4 linked regions of the Homo sapiens genome follow. Changing the gene in region 3 together with the main gene of any one other region gives a genetic interaction. Each region holds a gene or a part of one and is shown on either strand. Other genes may lie near its edges.

Region 1 (3,500 bases), on a different chromosome or scaffold from region 3:
CTTTTAAGAGATAGGGCCTCACTCTCCGATGCAATGGTGTGATCATGGCACACTGCAGTCTCAGCCTCCTGGGCTCAAGGAATCCTCCTGCCTTAGACTTCCAAAGTGCTGGGACTACAGGCATGCACCCGGCAAATTTTATTTTTTTGTAGAGACAGGGTCTTGCTATGTTGCCCAGGTTGGTCTCAAGCTTCTGGCCTCAAGTGATTTTCCCCCTCTCAGCCTCCCAGAGGATGAGGATTATAGGCATGGGATGCCATGCCTGGCCTCTCTAATTACATTTTAATAACTAGCAATCATTATTGCATTACAAATGGGGATTTTTTTTTATCATACTATGAATTTCTCAAATAGAAACTTATATTGAAATCATGTTTTCCCCTGCAGTCTCACACCATTTTGCTGGTACAGCCTACCAAGAGGCCAGAAGGCAGAACTTATGCTGACTACGAATCTGTGAATGAATGCATGGAAGGTGAGTTTAACACTAATCAAGGGGTAGAAAAATGTCTCATTTAGGAACTGGGTTTTTCCCCTCCAAATTTTTTTTTTTTAATAGTCCATCCACCCCAGGCCCTGCCTTTATCACTTCCAACCCTCCAAATTTATTGAATTGCTAATTTTAGGAGGGAAAGCAGATATTTAGGATGGACCATAATTATTGAACATTTTATTTATTTGTTTGTTTATTTATGTATTATTTGAGACAGAGTCTCGCTCTATCACCCAGACTGGAGTGCAGTAATGCGATCTCGGCTTACGCAACCTCCGCCCCCCAGGTTCAAGTGATTCTCTTGTGCCTCAGCCTCCCAAGTAGCTGGGACTACAGGCATGGGCCACCACACCCAGATAATTTTTTGTGTATTTAGTAGAGATGGGGTTTCACCATGTTGGCCAGGCTGGTCTCGAGCTCCTGACCTCAAGTAATCCGCCTTGGCCGGTTGAACATTTTAAACATTAATTATGTATATAGTATCCTCCTTGCTACAAGTATTAGGTGTTTTTTTTTTTTAAACTAATGTATATAATGAGTGACTTTCCAGAGCTGCTTGTTGTTTTATAAATATTCTCTTCTTATTTGTCACATGTTATTTTGTTACAGTATGGAAATATTTTACAGGTATCCCTTATATATTCTGGTTAAGCTCAAACACTATAGGCTTGTGTGTCTGTCTGTTTTTAATAGGTTGTTTTAATAGATTTAAGGGATACAAGTGTAGTCTTCTTATATAGATATATGGCATAGTAGTAAAGTCTGGGCCTTTTTTTTTTTTTCCTTAAGACACGGGGTCTTGCTCTGTCACCCAGGCTGGGGTACAGTGGTGATAATGGCTTATTGCAGTCTCAGTTTCCTGGGCTCAAGCAGTCCTCCTGCCTCAGCCTCCCAAATAGCTGGGACTAGAGGCACCTGCCGCCACACCTGGCTAATTTTTTGGTTTTTTTATAGAGATGGGGTCACTGTGTTGCACATGTTGGTCTCAGACTTCTAGCCTCAGGCAGTTCTCCTGCCTTAGCCTCCCAAAGTTCTGGGATTACAAGCATGAGCCACCGCGCCAACCAAGTCTGGGCTTTTATTGTAGCCATCACCTGGTGTACATTGTACGCAGTAGTGATTTTTCATCCCTCACCATTCTCCCACCTTTTGTAGTCTCCAGTGTCAGTTATTCCACTCTGTCTGTCCATGTGCACACATCATTTAGCCTCCACTAATAAATGAGAACATTAAATGTTTGACTTTCTGAGTTACTTCACTTGAGATAATGACCTCCAATTCCATCCATGTTGCTGCAAAGACATGGTTTTATTCTTTTTTTAATAGCTGAGTAGTATTCCATGGGATGTGTGTGCATGCATTCTCATACACCACATTTCCTTTGTCTAGTCATCCATTGATGGATACGTAGTTGATTCCATGACTTTGCTGTTGTGTATAGTACTGCCGTAAACGTATGAGTGCAGGTGTCTTTGTTTCTTTTTGTTTTTTGAGACAGAGTCTCACTCTGTCGCCCAGGCTGGAGTGCAGTGGTGCATCTCAGCTCACTGCAACTTCTGCCTTCTTGGTTCAAATGATTCTCCTTCCTCAGTCTCCTCAGTAGCTGGGACTACAGGTGTGTGCCACCACGCCCAGCTAATTTTTGTATTTTTAGTAAAGACAGGGTTTCGCCACGTTGGCCAGGCTGGTCCCGAACTCCTGACCTCAAGTGATCCACCCACCTCGGCTTCCCAAAGTGCTGGGATTACAGGCGTGAGCCACCACTCCAGGCCATCTACTCTAATTCTTAAAGAAGAACATGGCATTTTTTTCTTCATCTCTTTACAGATCCATTTCTCTGCTGACATTTCTGCCTGCTATTGATGTAGATTTTGTATGCAGGCTCTCTTAGCAAATTGTTACCTAACCTACATTATCATGTTTGGTCTTTGATTCTGCAATACTCTTATTTCTCAGGGCAGTTTCAGGGTTCTAGAAAAATTGAACAGAAACTACAGTTTTTCCGATATTACTCTCTTTCTTCACCCCTACACAATTTCCCCTATTATTAATGAATTTCACTGGTGTGGTGCATTTGTAACAGTGGTGAACCAGTATTCATTACTGATACATTGTCATTAAGTAAAGTTCATAGTTCATACTAGGTTTCATTCTTATGTCCTACATTACTGTGGATTTTCCCAAATGCGCAGTGTCATGTGTCCGCCATTACAGCATCACACAGAATGGTTTCACTGCCCTGCCCTAAACATTTCTTGTGCTCTACCTATTCATCCCCTCCTACCCCACCCTCAACCTCTGGGAACCATTGGTCTTTTTACTGTCTCCATAGTTTTGTCTTTTCCAGAATGTCATATAGTTGGAATCATTATCGTGTGTGGCTTTTTCTTAACTGGCTTTTTTTACTTAGCAATGTGCATTTATTATGTTTCCCCCATGTCTTTTCATGACTTGGTAGCTCTTTTTCTAAAAATTAAAAGTGGTGATTTATTTCCCATTTAAAAAACTAAAACAAAAAAATGTTAAAATAATTATTAAATAAGTTCTCACATGATGTGGTTGCCAAATGGTAATTTTATTATTCTTTTTTTTTTTTTCTTGTAGTAAATATTCCCCTGTAGATCAGAGCATTTTTTTCCTCCCCCCTTTTTTTTAAGAGCAGTTAAAGACTTTATTTAAGACCATGTTTTTAGAGCAGTTTTAGGCTTATGGGAAAATTGTTTGGAAAGTACAGAGCTCCAGCATACGCCTTCTTTCCTCCCCTTCTTAGTTTCCCCTATTAGTGCATCTTCTATTAGTCTGATTACACTTGTTGGGATTGGTGAATTAATATTCATAGATTATTATTAACTAAAGTTCGCAGTTTATGTTAGGGTTTACTGTATGTGTTGAACATTCTGTGGGTTTTGACATGTATAATTACGTGTATCTACCTTTACTGTATCATACAGAGTAGTTTCACTACCAGAAATCCCCATTGCTCCACCTATACCTCCTTCCCTGCCAC
Region 2 (3,500 bases), on a different chromosome or scaffold from region 3:
TGATTTATTAACCTTGATTTTTAAGTTTGAGCAGTAAAGTTGAAGATAGACCTATTTTGACATCTCTGCCTGTTTAATTTTTTTACATACCATTCTTTCCAAGGTTTGTGTTATTACTTATTTCAGATACTTTTTCATTACTGTATTTTGAAAAGCAAATCAATAGTTATGACTGAAAAAACAGTTTAGAGTCTCCAGATACCACACTGTACCCCCAAGTTTCATGTAAATTGACTTGTCTTTCAGGTATATTCCCTTGTGAGCTTCTGTTGAATAAGGCTGCCAGCATGATTAGTAGCCAAGTCCTTTTAAAAACATTTTCTAGATACCCCAAGATTTTCCTCTCAGCCCTTATTTTTACAAATAAATTTTCATTCTAATAGAAGGTAGATTAGGTTTTTAGTTCCTTGCAAAAAATTTGCTGAAAAGGATTCAGGAAGAACTTGGCACCTAATTGTCAATTCTGCTTTGAGAAGATTAGAGAATTATGTAACACACTGCTCATTGGAATTTTATCAGAGAAGGAATAGAGCATCCCTCTGGCAATTTTCCCCCTAAACTTTATGGACTTTATTTTCTTTGCACAGAAATTGGTTGAAAGCACTGCCATCCCAAGTCATTTAAGTAATGATTACCTACTTAGTGTGTTGGGCAGCCTCCTGTTCCATCTCTGAGGTTTATGTGACACACACGCCCCCCAACCCCCAGCCAAAGAAAAAAAAAAGTTTTTATCAGCAGACAGTAATTCTTGCTGCTGAGTCTTCACTTTGAAAAAGAAATAATAACACATCAGACTTCTTTAATAAAAGACATTTTAAAAGGCAAGAACAGAGATGAACTTTTTGACTTTTCTAAAGTTGGAAGAAGGGAAACAAATAGGTTAAGGTTTTGTTATTTTGTTAGAAGTTGTTTAACAAAGGACAGTTGGCTTCATTATTACCTTGTCCAAGTCAGTGATCCATTGAGGCCATTGAAATTACTTAATACTGTTTTATTGCAGTTATGTGTGTGTTGGCTGGGCACAGTAGCTCACATCTATAATCCCAGCACTTCGAGAGGCTGAAGCAGGAGGATCACTTGAGCCCAGGAGTTTGAGATCAGCCTGGGCAACATAGTGAGACCTCATCTCTACAAAAAAATTAGAAAATTAGCCGGGCATGGTGGTGTGCACCTGTAGTCCCAGCTACTCAGGAGGCTGAGGCAGGAAGTCAAAGCTGCAGTGAGCTGAGATCACACTACTGCACTCCAATCTTTGTGACAAAGCGAGATCCTGTCTCAAAAAGGATGTGTTTGTTTTCAGGAGTGAGTTTGTTTTTAACCTGTCAGTTGGATCGTTACCTAATGATAAATCTCAACTATCTTCTGAGACATCCCCAGAGTTGTCAGTGGCATCGCCTCTATCTTACTTTTTATTATGTTACATAGTTCAGGCACTCTTGCTAGGGTTGTCCTTCTGTAGCATCATTGAAGCACAAAAAAGGGAGCAGTATGTAATTCTGGACCTGATGGTTCAAGTTTGATTTGGAGAATTAGGCCTCAAACACAGTGGCAAAAGAGGAAGAGCACTACAATAGGCCTCCTTTATCCTCAGAGTAGGTACCAGAAACCACAGATAGTAGTGAACCCTATGCACAAATTTCTGTGTGTGTGTGTGTGCACGCGCGTGTGTATGACAGAGTCTCACTGTGTCACCGAGGCTGGAGTGCAATGGTGTGGTCTCGGGTCACTGCAACCTCCGCCTCCTGGGTTCAAGCAGTTCTCCTGCCTCAGCTTCCCGAGTAGCTGGGACTACAGGCGCACACCACCACGCCAAGCTAATTTTTGTATTTTTAGTAGAGACAGGGTTTCACTATGTTGGCCAGGCTGGTCTCAAACTCCTGACCGCATGAGCCACCTGCCTTAGCCTCCCAAAGTGCTGGGATTACAGGCGTGAGCCACCGCGCCTGGCCAGCACGAACTTCTTTTTACTTCTTCACAATCTCACAGATAGAAGATTCGTCCTTACCATAAATCTTGGCAGTCTCAACATATGATTCTTTTTCTTATTAAGTCAAGAACTTGTACCTTTTCACTTAAAGGAAGCACTTTACAGCTTCTCTTTGGCATATCCATATTGCCAGCATCACTGCTCTTATACTTTCAGGCTAGTATTAAGTTAAAAAAAGGGTTACTTGAACACAAGTAACCCTTTGATACCACAACAGTCAATCATAAAACTGAGATAACTGATTAATGGGCAGCATGGAGATGCTAGACAAAGGATAATCCACATCCAGGGACAGTATGAGGTATCATCACACTGCTAAGAACAGCATGCAGTGTAAAACTTACGGATGTCTGTTGCTGGGACTATGCATTTAATGTTTTTGGACCACAGATAAGGTGGGACAAAGTTCACCATTTAGCCTTATTTTCTAAATATTATGTGACAAGACAAATATGTAAATTTAGCAGGGAGCTAGGCAGGAAGGCTAGCTTTTCTTGCTTTGGTCAATGAGATGTGATGTTCAATATCTGTTGCCAAAAAAAAAATTGAGAATTTAAAATTCTGATAACTGGCCAGGTACAGTGGCTCACACCTGTAATCCCAGCACTTTGGGAGGCCAAGGCAGGAGGATCACTTGAGACTAGGAGTTTGAGATAAGCCTGGGCAACATGGTGAGACCCTGTCTCTACAGAAAATTTTAAAATTAGCCCAGCTTGGTGGCTCATGCCTCTGGTCCCAGCTACTTGAGAGGCTGAAGTGGGAGGATCACTTGAGCCCAGGAGGTCAAGGCTGCAGTTAGCTGTGATTGAACCACTGCATTCCAGCTTGGGTGACAGAGCAAGACCCTGTTTCAAAAAAAATAATAATTAAAATGAAAATAAAATTCTGATAACTAGGTAAGCATGTTTCTACTCCTGGCTTATGCTGGGCATGGTGATGTGCGCCTATAGTCCCAGCTACTCAGGAGGCAGAGGCAGGAGAACCACTTGAGCCTAGGAGTTCGAGGATGCAGTGTGCAGTGATTGTGCATGTGAATAGCCACTGCACTGCAGCCTGGTCAGCATAGCTAGTCCCAGTCTCAAAAAAATGGAGGGGAGCTCTGTTAACTTAGAAGAAGAGTGTCAATCTTTAGACTCTTTCAGTTCCCATTGTCATTTTCAGGGCACTGTGTTTACTGGTTTTTGTTGTTGGTTTGAGATAAGGTCTCACTCTGTCACCGAGGCCGGAGTGCAGTAGCATGGAGCTTGGTTCACTGTGGTCTCAACCTCCCTGGGCTCAGTTGATCCTTCCACCTCAGCCTCCCGAGTAGCTGGAACCACAGGTGTGCACCACCACCCTCAGCTAATTTTTGTATTTTTGTAGAGACAGGGTTTTACCATGTTGCCCAGGCTGGTCTCAAACTCCTGGGCTCAAGCTATCTGCCCACCTGGGCCTCTCAAAATGCTGAGATTATAGGCGTGAGCCACCATGCCCAGCCATTCTTTTTTAAATCTGCTCTTTACTACCTTATCAT
Region 3 (3,500 bases):
AAACAGGAAAGATCCGCAGAAAATACAATTCTTCCCGAAGAAGAAACTGTAGTTCAGAACACCTCTGCAGGAAAAGACCCCTTAAAAGTAGAGAATAGTCAAGTGACAGTGGCAGTACGCGTAAGACCTTTCACCAAGAGGTATGTGATGCCTTTTAAAATCTAAAGCCAAGCAGTTACATGTAAGGTACCTTTAATTCCTCTCTGCCTTTGGAAGGTCAGTGTATTCGTGCATCTTCAAACTTGTTGGCAATACTTTTATATAGAAAGAACTTTTAGGTCTAGTTGTAGTGTGTGTTGATAATTTTTGATCACTGACTATAAAATTAAAAAATTGAATCACCATATTTTGTATATTGAAGTTTCTCTAGATATATTGCTTTTAAAAAGTCTGAATAAGTCACTTAGGTCTCTAATGAAATCTGCTTTCAGATCTGCAATATATGCTGGAATGTTATACCTATCCCTTAAAAAGAGCCATAACAGGCCAGGTGTGGTGGGTCACGCCTGTAATCCCATTGCTTTGGGAGGTCAAGGCAGGCAGATCACTTGAGGCCAGGGGTTTGAGACCAGCCTGGCCAATATGGTGATACCCTGTCTCTACTAAAAATACAAAAATTAGCTGGGCATGGTGTTGCACACCTGTAATCCCAGCTACTCGGGAGGCTGAGGCAGGAGAATCACTTGAACCCGGGAGGCAGAGGCTGCATTGAGCTGACATCAGGCCACTGCACTCCAGCCTGGGCGACAGAACGAGACTGTCTCAAAAAAAAGAAGAGCCATAACAAATTACTGGTTCCCTAAAGAGGTCCTTTCAAAACCCTTTCCAGAGTGGTGATTATCATCATCATTGTCTCCGATTACTATATAGTAGTTATAAATGCAGTGATACATTAGATTTGATTTTGATGGCAAAAAATCTCTCTCTAAAAGTGGTTGTGGGTGGGGAAGACACAGATTAAAGATAAGGTTGGAAAAGATGGACATGACAAAATGTGAATGTGACAAAATGTAATTGTTTTAAAATATTTTAATGTAGTTGTTTAAAATATTTTAAGGGACAGTGAAAAACTTCACAGAGTTAGTAGTGTTTAACTTGAAGCTGTGTATCTAAGCAAGTTAGAAGAGGATTTGGTGACCACTGCATCAGGGCAGGAACCTCCAGTTTGAACCTAAGGGGTCAGTAGTTAAAGGCAAGTTATACAGTACTGTAGAATCTTTTTCGTGCAAATGGGTTAGTATTAAGAGGGAGAACTGAGGGTGAGTTGGTTTGAGAGAATTGGAATGTCTAATAGAGCCTCAAGAACCATGATAGGAAGAGAAACAATAGAAAGAGCTGGTAGGGACAAAATGCAAGATGGATGACTATACTGAACTTAGTAAGGGACCAAGTGCCTGATTCCAAACTCATCAGACAAGCCTTGAAAGCAGGGCCAGGGTAGAGTACTTGTCAAATTGATGAGGCAGGTGTTTTTTCCAGAATAAATTCTGATTTAAAGCAGTCTCAGAGTCAGGGATGGAGCGGGGAGGGAGTGTATATCTGGAGCCAGACAAAGAGTGATGATGTTTTTCTGTAGATCTAAAGTAAATGAAAGATTTCCACCTAAGTCTCAAAGGGAAAAAGGATATACAGAAAGATTCATGATTTTAAGGGAGAGAATCTAGAGGAAGGAGGAGAGATCTTTAGTAGCCAAGAGAGACTTATGATTGAAACTTACAGTCAACTGAGTTTGTTAAAATTAGATATTTGTATTTTATGCCAGCTTTATTTAGATTGGTACCCCCCCAAATTTGTATAATAAAGATGTAGATTTGGATGAAGAGTATAGGTAGATTATAGTAGGTGGGATGGGAAAAGGTATAGTTCAAGAGAAAAAAAAAAGAGGAAAAAATCTTGTAAAAGTAGGATAGGTTTTCTGGAGGAATCTGGGATTTTCCCTTTGGTGGCACTGGAGCCTCAGGAAATATATTTTGGAAACCCACTAGAATTATGTTTGCTTATCTGCATTTTCCACATAAAACTACAGAATTATCTTGCCTTGGAAGATTGTTTAAATAGTTTTGAGGTATTTATTATGTTCTGTGAGAATAATACCCTTGATCATTTTAGTTACTTGATTTTTTTCTTTGTGCTTCTTTCAAGAGAGAAGATTGAAAAAGCATCCCAGGTAGTCTTCATGAGTGGGAAAGAAATAACTGTGGAACACCCTGACACGAAACAAGTTTATAATTTTATTTATGATGTTTCATTCTGGTCTTTTGATGAATGTCATCCTCACTACGCTAGCCAGACAACTGTCTATGAGAAGCTAGCAGCACCACTCCTAGAAAGAGCCTTCGAAGGCTTCAATACCTGTCTTTTTGCTTATGGTCAGACTGGCTCTGGAAAATCATATACGTAAGTTGTATTGGAAATGCAATTATCCAGAAGTGTTTAAATATACTTTTGTGAGAAGTGGCATAGGGGTGATAGAAAGAATATAGTTTTGAAATCACACAGATCTTGGCCCAAATCTCATCCATTTTATATACCAGTTCTGCAAACTTGGGCAATTTACTTAGCCTCTGGGCTTCAGTTTATACATTTACCTTGATACAATTCATCTTGTAATTATCATTGGCCCCATTTTACTGTACTTTATATATTTTACATAAACTAAGGCCTAGAGAGGTTATCTTTTAAGTATTTTGGTGAGAATTAAAAGTAAGGCATCTAAGCTAGATGTGATGGCACACACCTGTAGTCTCAGCTACTTGGGAAGCTGAGGTAGGAGGATTGCTTAAGTGCAGGAGTTCGAGTCCAGCCTGGGCAACTTAGTCCCCATCTCTTAAGAAAAAAGGGTGGAGGGGCATCTGATAAATGGTAGCTATGATAATAATACCTGTCCTAGAAAGAAATACTCAGCATTTTAACAGTAGCTAACATTTGAGTTCTTTTTTTTTTTTTTTTTTTTTTTTTTTTGTAGCAAGGTTTGTTGTGAAGAGCGAAAGAACAGAGCTTCCACAGTCCACAGCGTGGAGGGGTCCCAAGCGGGTTGCCCAACATTTGAGTTCTTACTATATTCCAGACACTGTGCTAAAGACTTTGCTTATATTCTTTCACAACAATTCTCTGAATTAGATAGTTGTATTATTCCTGTTTTACAGTAGAGGAAATTGAAGTTTAGTGAGGTTAAATATCTTGGAGTCAAGATTTGGACTCAGGCAGATTTGACTCCAGAGTCCAGATTCTTAATTATGAGATTCAGTGAACTTGCTTCCTACTCCCTTCCCAGCCTATTTCCCCAAAAAGAATTTTAAAGAAAGAATTAGTTTTATTTCCCCCTTATTCATAATGTATTTTTCAGGATGATGGGATTTAGTGAAGAACCAGGAATAATTCCAAGATTTTGTGAAGATCTTTTTTCTCAAGTAGCCAGAAAACAAACCCAAGAGGTATGTTCTTATAATACCTGCAAGCTTCTTTTCAGAGTAGAAAATAGTCAAATCAAGTTCAAATCA
Region 4 (3,500 bases), on a different chromosome or scaffold from region 3:
GAAAAACTGGGTTAGTATTTAAGGCAGGACTTCTCTAACTTCAGTGTGCAGATGAACCTGGGCATCTTGTTAAAATGAAGGCTCTGCCTGAGCAGGTCGGGGCAGGGACGAGAGGCTCTGCATTTCTAACAAGCTCCTGAGAATGCAAAGGCTGCTGGTCCACTGCACTCTTGTTACAATGGACCAGCAGCGTTAACCATGGGGAAAGTCAAAGTTTAATGTCAGACTTTGACGTTTGGTTACACGTGTGTTCACATTTCTAGAGCAGTAGTTCTCAACTGGGAGAGAGTTTATCGCCCAGGGCATAAATGGAAATTTCTAAAGATGCTTTTTGGTCTCCTTCAGCCTCATCCCCTAGGGCACAATAAAGTCTAACAAAGGGTAGGGATGTGGTAATATGAAGGCTGAGCTGGTGAAATCACCTTGTCACTCAAAGCCACATTTCCCTTCCACCACCTGGGTCAAAATGTGCTCAAGCATCATTTCCTCTGTGAAACCCTTCCATGCAGACACCACCAGCCATACGTCCCTTGCTCCTTTCTCCAGGGTGCTCTGGGCCCCTCCCTCCATCAGTTAGAATTCCGGTCACCTTCAAGTGATGAAACCCTAAACGAACAGGCACTTGACCAGTTTAATTCTCCCAGGTGACAGTACTGGCATGGCTCTTCACAGCCTCGGGGAGGCAGGCTCCTTCTCTCTTGTCCTGCCTTACTTGACCTTCACGCCTAAGATCATTTTCTGGCCCCAGGTGGCAGCTCCTACTCCAGCCATCTGGTCCACATTCCAGAGTGCAGGAAGGAGGAAAGGTGGGGGATGACGCCTTCCCCCTTAAGAACACTTCCTAGAAGCTGCATATACCACTTCTGTTCAACATCTTTTTGGCTAGAATTTGGTCACAATACCACACCTAATTTCAAGAGACACTAGGAAAATACCTTGAATCCATGTAGTCATCTGCCCAGTTAAAAATCAGAGCTTCTACATTAGGAAGGGGAGAATAGATACCGAGATAACTGATCTATCTTGCCACAGTTCTCTCCCTAGTACCGTCCTGATTACTCTGAGACCTCCTGGGGACAGGGTCCAAGCCCAAGTCTTCTTCAAGAACACAGGAAATGGCCCACAGGGGGTTCTCTGGCAATGTACAGCTAACTCTGCTTCTCATGTTGTGTACTTCTCATGTTGAAACTGTTACACACTTTCCAGGTACTAATTCACTTGGTCCTCGCCACCCACCCTGCAATCTAGGTATTACTGTAACTCTCATTTTACACAATACAAAACTGAGCTCATAAAGACTTAACAAGCTACTCCTAGTCACACGTCTATTAACTGAAGGAGCCACAATTTGGACCCAGGCAGTCTGGTTCCAAGGCACCTGCTCTTAACCCCCCAAATACTCGGCCGACATCTATGAATCTGAACTGCACTACAGGACACCACCCAGAGCACCTCATGGACCCTCTACCCCAAAGGCCAGCAGCACTCCTGGGGGGATCCCCAGAGTATTCTTTCGGGACATAGGGGTATAATGGGTCCTGTAACAAGATCTTCTCCAGAGAAAAGCGCAGATGTTGTGGCTCTGGGGTGGTGCCCCCTCCTCCAAGCTGATGACTAAGGCCAGAGGACCAACTACTTCTAGACCTTTATTTCTCTGTGAAAAGGGGGAAAATAAAAGGAATAAAATAAAAACGGCACAGTTGACACACAAAAAAAAACCAATGATGGGGAGGACGGGAGGTGGAGAAGTAAATGGGGGAGGGGTTCCCATTACAGCAGCAGGATCCAGTGACCCGGGATGCTCACATCTCTCCCTGACGTGGGCGGAGTAGCCCCTTCCTCCCAAGGTCACTGTCCTGTCCAACCCCGTGCTCCCCTAGCCCGTTGGGAGGTGGACAGTGAGACATCTTCCCAGGCTGGGGAGAGGAGGAACCGTGCTGGGGGAAGGGGCCTGGGGTCAGACCATGCACAGGGAGTGACAGCCAAAGGCCCCCCAGTGTCTCCCCAAAGAGGGACTTGTGGGGGTTGGAGGGTGGACACCAGAGGCCAGTGTTTGCTCCTCTTCCAGCATCAGGCGAGAGACAGAACTAGGAAAACAGGAACAGGCAAGAATCAGAACCAGAGCCCTCTCTCTGCCCACAATGCCAAGGTACCTCCCCCTCCCAGAAGCTGCTGCCCACAGGCCCAGTGCCTGTCCTCAAAGTCCACCCTCCTGCTAGGGCTCCGTGCTTTCTAGGTCTTACCAGTCAGAGCCTCCTGGGCAAAGTATTTGACGTCCACATCCTGGTCCTGGGTCAGCTTCTCTAGGATGGGCTTGACTTCACTCTGCAAGGTGCTGGAAAGCGAAAGGAGACAGGGAGAGAGAGGGTGAGCCAGGATGGACTGGGGCAACAGGTGGGCACAGGGCTCTTGGGCAAGAGAGTGTACACAGACACGGATACACCAAACCCAAGGTGGGAGGAGTCTCAAGAATCCAGGGCACACACAGGAATTAGAAATCTCTGATCACTGCACAGGCGGGTGACCATAGTTAATAATAACATTTTGCATATTTCAAAACAGCTATAAGAGAAGATTTTGAATGTTCTCATCACAAAGAAACAGTAAACATTTAAGGTGATAGATATGCTAATTATCCTAATTTGATCATTACACATTTGCACACATTATTGAAACACTACTATACCCCCATAAATATATAAAATTATGAGTCAATTAAAAGTAAAATCAGGCCGGACGTGGTGGCTCACATCTGTAATCCCAGCATTTTGGGAGGCCAAGGTGGGTGGATCATCTGAGGTTGGGAGTTTGAGACCAGCCTGGCCAAACCAACATGGAGAAACCCTGTCCCTACTAAAAACACAAAATTAGCAGGGCGTGGTGGTGCACGCCTGTGATCCCAGCTACTTGGGAGGCTGAGGCAGGAGAATTGCTGGAACCTGGGAGGCGGAGGTTGTGGTGAGCCAAGATTGCATCATTGCACTCCAGCCTGGGCAACAAGAGCGAAACTCCGTCTCAAAAAAAAAAAAAAAAAAAAAAAGGTAAACTCAAGGCCGAGCACGGGGGCTCAAGCCTGTAATCCTAGCACTTTGGGACGCCAAGGTGGGCAGACCACTTGAGGCCAGGAGTTCAAGACCAGCCTGGACAACATGGGAAAACCCCCATCTCTACTCAAAGTACAAAAATTAGCCAAGCATGGTGGTGCACACTTGTAATCCCAGCTACTTGAAAGGCTGAGGCACAAGAACTGCCTGAACCCAGGAGGCAGAGGTTGCAGTGAGCCGAGATCGCACCACTGTACTCCAGTCTGGGCGACAGAGCGAGATTCTGCCTCAAAGGAAAACCAAACAAACTGCAAAAAACCAACCAACCAACCAATTACTTAAAGGTCAGAAGTATGATAAACAAGGACTGGGGCCCCAAACAGGGAGATCAGAGCAGGCTGGGAAAGTGGAACAGAATCTCAGAACCCCCAAGTCTCTGAGGCCCAGCAAATGGGT

The links.
Region 1: changes in KIF14 (region 3) and ERH together harm fitness more than expected from each alone (negative genetic interaction), as found in Homo sapiens cells (one large-scale study listed by BioGRID).
Region 2: changes in KIF14 (region 3) and SNRPG together harm fitness less than expected from each alone (positive genetic interaction), as found in Homo sapiens cells (one large-scale study listed by BioGRID).
Region 4: changes in KIF14 (region 3) and PPP2R1A together harm fitness more than expected from each alone (negative genetic interaction), as found in Homo sapiens cells (one large-scale study listed by BioGRID).

Annotation. Positions count from the first base shown.
Region 1 is NC_000014.9:69,391,800-69,395,299, reverse strand, and holds part of ERH (enhancer of rudimentary homolog), read left to right. Parts: intron 1-387; coding exon 388-475; intron 476-3,500. UniProt on the Homo sapiens protein: May have a role in the cell cycle.
Region 2 is NC_000002.12:70,283,741-70,287,240, reverse strand, and holds part of SNRPG (small nuclear ribonucleoprotein G), read left to right. Parts: exon of another isoform or gene 1-43; intron 44-3,500. UniProt on the Homo sapiens protein: Plays a role in pre-mRNA splicing as a core component of the spliceosomal U1, U2, U4 and U5 small nuclear ribonucleoproteins (snRNPs), the building blocks of the spliceosome.
Region 3 is NC_000001.11:200,614,252-200,617,751, reverse strand, and holds part of KIF14 (kinesin-like protein KIF14), read left to right. Parts: coding exon 1-140; intron 141-2,142; coding exon 2,143-2,397; intron 2,398-3,346; coding exon 3,347-3,434; intron 3,435-3,500. UniProt on the Homo sapiens protein: Microtubule motor protein that binds to microtubules with high affinity through each tubulin heterodimer and has an ATPase activity. Plays a role in many processes like cell division, cytokinesis and also in cell proliferation and apoptosis.
Region 4 is NC_000019.10:52,224,552-52,228,051, reverse strand, and holds part of PPP2R1A (serine/threonine-protein phosphatase 2A 65 kDa regulatory subunit A alpha isoform), read right to left. Parts: intron 2,336-3,500; coding exon 2,244-2,335; intron 2,088-2,243; coding exon 2,071-2,087; 3' UTR 1-2,070. UniProt on the Homo sapiens protein: The PR65 subunit of protein phosphatase 2A serves as a scaffolding molecule to coordinate the assembly of the catalytic subunit and a variable regulatory B subunit.